Linked DNA regions of Homo sapiens: region 2 is reported to be linked to region 1. The links are microRNA targets in miRTarBase. Many come from high-throughput screens and were not tested one by one. Region 1 holds a microRNA gene; the other region holds the end of a gene's coding sequence.
Evidence for each region. The annotated mature microRNA hsa-miR-1537-3p reads AAAACCGUCUAGUUACAGUUGU and lies in region 1 at 2,920-2,941, opposite strand. An mRNA with a match to its seed (bases 2 to 7 or 8) in the 3' UTR can be bound and repressed. Matches are read on the target gene's strand: a 7mer-m8 pairs with bases 2 to 8, a 7mer-A1 pairs with bases 2 to 7 and ends in A, and an 8mer does both.

Region 1 (4,400 bases):
GAAAAGAACAAATCTGGAGGCATCACATTACCTGATTTCAAACTATACTATAAGGCCATAGTCACCAAAATAGTGTGGTACTGGTATAAAAATAGGCACATAGACCAATGGAACACAATAGAGAACCCAGAAATAAACCCAAATACCTACAGCCAACTGATCTTTGACAAAGCAAACAAAAACATAAAGTGGGGAAAGGACATTCTTTTCAACAAATCATGCTGGAATAATCAGCTAGCCGCATGTAGGAGAATGAAACTGGATCCTCATCTCTCACCTTATACAAAAAATCAACTACACATGTACTAAGGACTTAAACTTAAGACCTGAAACTATAAAAATTCTAGAAGATAACATTGGAAAAACCTTTCTAGACATTGGCTTAGGCAAGGATTTCATGACAGAGAACCCAAAAGTAAATGCAATAACAACAAAGATAAATAGCTGGGACCTAATTAAACTAAAGAGCTTTTGCATGGCAAAAGTAACAGTCAGCAGAGTAAACAAACAACCCACAGAATTGGGAGAAAATCTTCACAATCTATACATCTGACAAAGGACTAATATCCAGAATCTACAACAAACTCAAACAAATCAGTAGGAAAAAAACAATCCCATCAAAAAGTGGGCTAAGGACATGAATAGACAGTTCTCAAAAGAAGATATATAAATGGCCAACAAACATATGAAAAAATGCTCAACATCACTAATGATCAGGGGAATGCAAATCAAAACCACAATGTGATACCATCTCACTCCTGCAAGAATGGCCATAATCAAAAAATCAAAAAACAGTAGATGTTGGCATGGACGTGGTGAACAGGGAACACTTCTGCACTGCTGGTAGGAATGTAAACTAGTACAGCCTCTATGGAAAACAATGTGGAGATTCCTTAAAGAACTAAAAGTAGAACTAACATTGGATCTAGCAATCCCACTACTGGGTATCTACTCAGAGAAAAAGAAGTCATTATTTGAAAAAGATACTTACACACGTTTATAGCAGCAAAATTCACAATTGCAAAATTGTGGAACCAACCCAAATGCCCATCAATCAACAAGTGAATAAAGAAACTGTGGTATGTAAGTATGTATGTATATGTGTGTGTATATATATATATATGATGAAATACAATGCAGCCATAAAAAGGAATGAATTAACAGCATCTGCAGTGACCTGGATGAGACTGGAGACTATTATTCTAAGTGAAGTAACTTGGGAATGGAAAACAAAACATCATATGTTCTCACTGATATGTGGGAGCTAAGCTATGAGGATGCAAAGGCATAGAATGATACAATGGACTCTGAGGACTTGGGGGGAAGAGTGGGAGGGGGGCGAGGGATTAAAAGACTACAAATATGGTACAGTGTATACTGCTTGGGTGATAGGTACACCAAAATCTCACAAATCACCACTAAATAACTTATTCATGTAACCAAATACCACCTGTACCCCAATAACTGATGGAAAAATTAAAAATAATAAAAATAAAAAGGTTTATTGGCAAAAAAAGAATGATTCCTAACTAAAGACAAAACAAAGTTCATTAGGAATATTATTTTTATATATTTACTTTTATTAATATAAAAACCTTTATAATCTATTTTATAGTGGATAATAAATACACTCTCGAGAATACTGAAGCAAAATCTGGTACTCACTAAATAGGGGAAATTAAAATATTTAATGGGCTTTGTGTGATCAAATTCCTCTTGGAATTTAAAATGCAGATCAGGGAAAGATATGACACTTAAAGTTCTAAATTAAATAACTGAATAAGAAAATTCATGAAAACCAATTTAACAATAATATAAATGGTTTCACAAACTGAAATCTTCCATAAGACAAATCATGATCCCATATTTATTGACTACTCACCATACTTCGTGGTATGTTCAACTTTCATTGAATCTATTAACTTTAAAAGAAATGATAGCAGTTGTTTAGCGCCCAGGCCCTTCTTGACAAATACTGAACTTGCTTCTCTGAAGAGTGCATTAAGGAGCATCTGACTAGAAGTCAAGATGTCATGTATTCTTAGGAAATAAAGATTGTGGTCTCCAGTTCCGTAGATACTAACATTGGGACAGCTTCAGGAAGGAAATGCTGTTAAGGCTTTTAACTACAGACCCTACAGAATCTTAGTAACAACTCATGCCTCAATGGGAAAATGAATTCAGAGTTCCAACTTGAATTGCTAGCAATATGTTTTGCCCCATTCTCCCCCAGCCCCCTGCCTGTCAGGGAGGGAGAAGAGATTCCTGTACCTCAAAGCCATTTGTGGTAGCTCCAACAATCTGGGGAAAGGGCCCCAAAAGTAGGATAGTACCACGTAAGGCAAACAGTAAGCCAGTTAGACATGTTGAGGTAATCTCAGCACTTTGCCGGACCTTTTTCCCGGGGAAGTCTCACAATGCAACACTCAAGTATACTGTAGTTTATTTTGTCTGTAAGGGCAAATCTTATGCATTCTAAACATTCTCAACAACCATCTTAGAAATGAGCCTCTGGAACACAGTCATATGTAAGACGTAACTGCCATACTCAAAAGACATTTTTTCAACTAATACTGAGGTAAGTGACAAGTTGATTGACAATAAAGGAAAACTGCCAGAGTTCGCATTTAATAAATTATTTTAAAATGAGAATCCATTCTACAATCAACTTTCAGAGAGTTAAACGATCTCTGGGTTAATGACCATATCACCTCCCTCAAAATTTTACAGATAAACTAAGGCAGACAGCAGTTAAGAGATTTCCCAAAAGTCAGAGGACTTAACAGCTAGGTCTGCAGAGTCCTATCCAATGTTTTTCCTAATACTGCATACAATTTTTGACAGACTACTCACAACCAAACTATATCTTTCAGAATTCTACCTTTCAGAGCATTTTAGCGATTAGGTCTGGCACAACTTACAACTGTAACTAGACGGTTTTCTGTGTGGACAGGACAGAAAACTGACTAATTACAGCTGTACTTAGTGCCAACTCCCAGGCACGCCTCCAAGCACCACAAACTTCTTGCCCCCCCACAAACTTCTCAAGATGTTTTACAGCTTTGTTATCTTTTTCCATGTTTCCACATTGTACATTTATACCAAAAAGTAAATGACTTGGAAGAAAAATGTTGCTCCTCTTGAAAAGAAGTATGTACATTTTAACAAGAAGTAACACCTTCAGCTCTAAAGAGCATCAGAAATTTCAGCATCGGAGGGTTAAGAATTGGCTCTGAACTAGATGTTCTATATTTAAAATGTGGGAATATAATAATCCTTAACTAGTGAATATGGAAATAAATGGTTGTGCTGTTCCTATATTTATTCTGTATTATGCATTTAAGCTAAGTTAAAGTAGAAAAATGTGTTTAATGAAATATTTCCAATTTATGTAGAATTGTGTAAAGAAAACTAAAAAAAAAAACATGTATAACAGCAGTAAGGCAGTAGTTCTGGGGGAAGAATGGAAATCTAAGACAGCAATGGCCCAGAAAGGTGTACATATTATTTTTTCATATTTCAGGGTGTCAATAAACAACATTGCCTATTTCGCTACCCCTCTCCCCAAGCCCATGAAATCTTGGTTAACATGCCATTCCGGCTGCCTTGAAACCTGGGGCGCTGACCTAGGGAGGAGAGGTTACTCTGGCTCCTTGCAGAACAAAGCTGGCCAGGAAATAAAGGAAACTCAGGCATAGGGCAGCCAGGCAAAATTTTAATAGAAATTCAGAGGAAGTCACACTAAAACGCACCAAACTTAAGCCTTTCAACAGGTAGTTCATTTTTCCTAAAAACAAACAAATTCGGCAACCAGATATCTCAGGAAGAACCTGTGTTTGGCCCTGAGCACCGCAAAAGGGTAGAAATTCTGAGATATTGTAGCTATAGAGAGAGAGACGGCATTTAAAGGAACTATGAAGGTTCATCCAGGTAAATCATCTCCCCGGCTTTCTATCCCTGTTAGAAGGAATGTGCTAGATGTTTTACACTGACTACTACATCCCTCCTCAAAAGAGACCTTTGGATTTTTATAGCATGATGATGATGATGATAATCTGGCTAACACCTACAGTGATTAATTACTACACATCAGGCACTATTGTAAGCACTCTAGGTAAGTAGAGTAGTTAGTTTAATCCTCCTAACAATCTCCTAAGTAACATTATTATCCCTAGTTGACACATATTGGAAACTGAAGCACAGTAAGGTTAGGTCATTGCTCAAAGTCACAGAGTTACTAAGTGTCAGGGCCAGGATTCAGACTCATGCAATCCCTTTGTATTCTATATACAAATTTCTATTCTCCAAAGCAGACATTGACTTCTCTCTCCAATAAGCCAGCTCTTCCTTCTTCATTCCTCTTTCAGTAAATGGCCTCTACCCAGTGACTGAGGTGAGAA
Region 2 (4,400 bases), not on the chromosome of region 1:
AAGAAGTGGGTTTACATTAAAATAGAAATGTTTAAATTATTTTAGAGAATGTGGACTTAATTTTAGAATAAGATTTTATGAGTCTTTTATGAAAAAATATCAGCGTTTTTTAACGAGAAAAAGAATACCTCTAGATTTGCCTATATAATGAGAGTATAACCTAAGCTGTAAATTATTGCCATTTGAAAATCAAATCCTACTTGAAAGCCACACAGAACTTGACTTCTGTTTCCCAGCCAACCTTAAATGAAGAGAAAAAGATGACATCATCTAAGGCTGGTGACTTATGCTACTCTTTGTAGCATTGCTTTTAAAATAAACAAAGTGGTTTTACAATGTTCTCACATCCCAAAGAATGATAATGCTACTCTTTGTGGTATTTGACATATTTGAAAGTAAGGTAACACTTGCCTCATCCAGGATGCGTTTTTTAAAAACTCAAAGTAAATGTCTTTATTCTTACCTTAACGATTGCTTTCGGTGAGTCACAATGTGTGTAAGTGTGTGTGTGTGTCACATTTGGAAAACAGGTGCACATAAAGCCAAAGTTAAGAGAAATGCTTCCTGGGATACTCAATTTGTCACTAGTGTGGGCGTATTAGGTTTTGCTGGTTACAGTCTGTAATATCATCAATGTTCATGTCCATGTTTTGCTTTCCTTCTCAGAGCTGGAAGTCGAGTGTGCTACTCAACTCAGGAGATTTGGAGACAAACTGAACTTCCGGCAGAAACTTCTGAATCTGATATCCAAACTCTTCTGCTCAGGAACCTGACTGCATCAAAAACTTGCATGAGGGGACTCCTTCAAAAGAGTTTTCTCAGGAGGTGCACGTTTCATCAATTTGAAGAAAGACTGCATTGTAATTGAGAGGAATGTGAAGGTGCATTCATGGGTGCCCTTGGAAACGGAAGATGGAATACATCAAAGTGAATTTCTGTTCAAGTTTTCCCAGATTATCATTCTTTGGGATGAGAGAACATTATAAAACCACTTTGTTTATTTTAAAGCAAGAATGGAAGACCCTTGAAAATAAAGAAGTAATTATTGACACATTTCTTTTTTACTTAGAGAATCGTTCTAGTGTTTTTGCCGAAGATTACCGCTGGCCTACTGTGAAGGGAGATGACCTGTGATTAGACTGGGCGGCTGGGGAGAAACAGTTCAGTGCATTGTTGTTGTTGCTGTTTTTGGTGTTTTGCTTTTCAGTGCCAACTCAGCACATTGTATATGATTCGGTTTATACATATTACCTTGTTATAATGAAAAAACTCATTCTGAGAACACTGAAATGTTATACTCAGTGTTGATTTCTTCGGTCACTACACAACGTAAAATCATTTGTTTCTTTTGACTCAAATTGTATTGCTTCTGTTCAGATGATCTTTCATTCAATGTGTTCCTGTTGGGCGTTACTAGAAACTATGGAAAACTGGAAAATAACTTTGAAAAAATTGGATAAAGTATAGGAGGGTTACTTGGGGCCAGTAAATCAGTAGACTGAACATTCAATATAATAAAAGAACATGGGGATTTTGTATAACCAGGGATAATAAAAAGAAAAAAGAAGTTAATTTTTAATTGATGTTTTTGAAACTTAGTAGAACAAATATTCAGAAGTAACTTGATAAGATATGAATGTTTCTAAAGAAGTTTCTAAAGGTTCGGAAAATGCTCCTTGTCACATTAGTGTGCATCCTACAAAAAGTGATCTCTTAATGTAAATTAAGAATATTTTCATAATTGGAATATACTTTTCTTAAAAAAAAGGAACAGTTAGTTCTCATCTAGAATGAAAGTTCCATATATGCATTGGTGAATATATATGTATACACATACTTACATACTTATATGGGTATCTGTATAGATAATTTGTATTAGAGTATTATATAGCTTCTTAGTAGGGTCTCAAGTAAGTTTCATTTTTTTTATCTGGGCTATATACAGTCCTCAAATAAATAATGTCTTGATTTTATTTCAGCAGGAATAATTTTATTTATTTTGCCTATTTATAATTAAAGTATTTTTCTTTAGTTTGAAAATGTGTATTAAAGTTACATTTTTGAGTTACAAGAGTCTTATAACTACTTGAATTTTTAGTTAAAATGTCTTAATGTAGGTTGTAGTCACTTTAGATGGAAAATTACCTCACATCTGTTTTCTTCAGTATTACTTAAGATTGTTTATTTAGTGGTAGAGAGTTTTTTTTTTCAGCCTAGAGGCAGCTATTTTACCATCTGGTATTTATGGTCTAATTTGTATTTAAACATATGCACACATATAAAAGTTGATACTGTGGCAGTAAACTATTAAAAGTTTTCACTGTTCTTTTCTGTGTGTTAATTTTGTCTTCATCTTGTAAGCTACTAATTACTAAGTGTTCATTATCAAGCCAAAGTATTTTAACTGATTTCCATCAGCAGACATCCTCTGACCTTCTGACCACACTGTCTCCTCCCAGTAGTTGGAGTAGAAAATATAGGGGAGTTTGCATGATTTCTGCTCTCAAGGGACTTACACTTTAATTGGGAGGGGAAATAGTGAAAAATAGGAAATGAATGCCCAACATAGGTCCTTTTTTTTTTTTTTTCTGAGACAGAGTCTTGCTCTGTCGCCCAGGCTGGAGTGCATTGGCACAATTTTGGCTCACTGCAACCTCTGCCTCCTGGGTCTAAGTGATTCTCGTGCTAAAGCCTCCCCCACACGCCACCACACTGGGTAATTTTTGTGTTTTTAGTAGAGACGGGGATTTCACCATGTTGGCCAGGCTGGTCTTGAACTCCTGGCCTCAAGTCATCTGCCCGCCTCGGCCTCCCAAAGTGCTGGGATTACAGCCTATACAGATTCATGATCTAATTAGAGGTGTTTTGTGAGCTGGCATCCTTGACTGCTCCTGGGTCTGTCTGGCAAGAGGAGCTGCAGTGCAGTTTCCTTTTTGGTGACCTCACGCTTCTTCCTCTGCTTCCAGCCGTAGAGTAGCAAAGATTGCTTCATCTGAGGTTAGTCATGTGCAAAAGTAGGTGTAACTCAATGGCCTTCCTGTTTGAGTGTGAGAACTAAAAGATACCCCTAGTTTTTAGCTTCAATCTGGTAGCCACATCTTCACCCCACCTCTGCCAAGGGAAAGAGTCAGCTGACACCTTAGAATGTAAATTGCCTTCCTAACATGGGAAACGTGAGGGAAGAAGGAGGAGTTACTAGAGGAAAAGAAGAACCAGAGAGCTGGAGGATGCAGGGTTATGGGCAAGATACATAACAATCTGGAGGGAGAGGCTTTTCTCTGGGAAAGTGGGGTGGAGGTGGGAGCTTGGCTTCAGAAAGGGTGGGGACAAACTACATGATTTGATTTGAGAATCACTGGAAGAGTAACTCCTGTCTCTGAGCCTGCTCGCATAGCCAGAATTGTTTTGCTAAAAGTGCACCTTATTAGTTCTCGCCACCACTAGAAAACAAGGAAAAAAAGTGTACCTCAGGCTCTTCTTTTATATAAAGAGTAGCACATGAAGGCTTAGGCACAGATTCACAATCTTCAGATATTAGAGCTATATATTCTTTGAGAACCATATTTTAATGTTAAAAAATGTCCAAGATGTTCAGGCAATTCTAATTATATCTGTTGACTGACAAAAACTGCTAGCTTTTAAATTTGCATTTATATTATAAAAGAAAATGTATCTATCTGTGAATAAGTTGTTCTTCACTTTAAAGAACTGTGTGCTGTGATTTGGGTTTTGGAATCCATTGCAATAACTCTACAAACTCCTCCCTGCCCCACTTCCTCTCAATCACGGAGCAGAAACCACCTAAAGGGTCAAAAATCCTGTAAATCTCATTGTCAATCGTCAAAGGGGACGATCCATCAGGAAGAGAACAAACACCTTAAAAATAGAATAGTGACTGGAAGTGCTGCGGTACAAGGAGTATCCCACTTTAGAATCTTGAAGGTGGACTTTCAAGGCAAAATCATGAATGAGCTGTGTGACCTTGGGCAAGACAACCTCTCTGAGCCACAGTTAATCTCTGAAATTGAGACTTAGATCATCTTTAAGGTCCCCTGAAGTTTGAATCATAAAATGGGATGGCAAAGGAGTCTGAAGGTCTCCCACCATAGTTCCAAGTCTGTCGGCCCCCACTCCTGAGCTCATTTCAGACACTAAGAGGAAAGTTAAGGGTTTGCAAAAAGAAGCAGGGGAGTGGGATTTTAAAAGACCCCCCCCCCCAAATTTCTGTTTTCTGGATTCTTCCCCCAAACATTGATTCTAAATCTTAGAGGAGGTTGAGTGGGAACCTCTTGGACTTGTATTTTCTTAGAAAGGGGAGTTTGCTATGCATGCAAGCTTTCCCAGTGATTGTATCACTGCCAGAATTCCTTCTTATGTGGAGCTGAAAGTAGATAGGGTCA

Region 2: the mRNA of PMAIP1 is a reported target of hsa-miR-1537-3p. Seed matches in the 3' UTR shown: 7mer-A1 at 1,235-1,241.

The regions. Positions count from the first base shown.
Region 1 is chr1:235,850,081-235,854,480 of GRCh38, forward strand. MIR1537 (microRNA 1537) reads right to left here and starts at 2,980; the gene lies at 2,920-2,980. The region is part of intron 1 of LYST (lysosomal trafficking regulator); the gene reads right to left.
Region 2 is chr18:59,901,981-59,906,380 of GRCh38, forward strand. It overlaps PMAIP1 (phorbol-12-myristate-13-acetate-induced protein 1), which reads left to right. Exons shown (of 2, transcript NM_021127.3): 2 at 667-2,325. The coding sequence ends at 773. Among named protein-coding and RNA genes, the nearest start is that of PMAIP1, 4.2 kb to the left of the region's middle. RefSeq lists an enhancer at 2,846-3,015.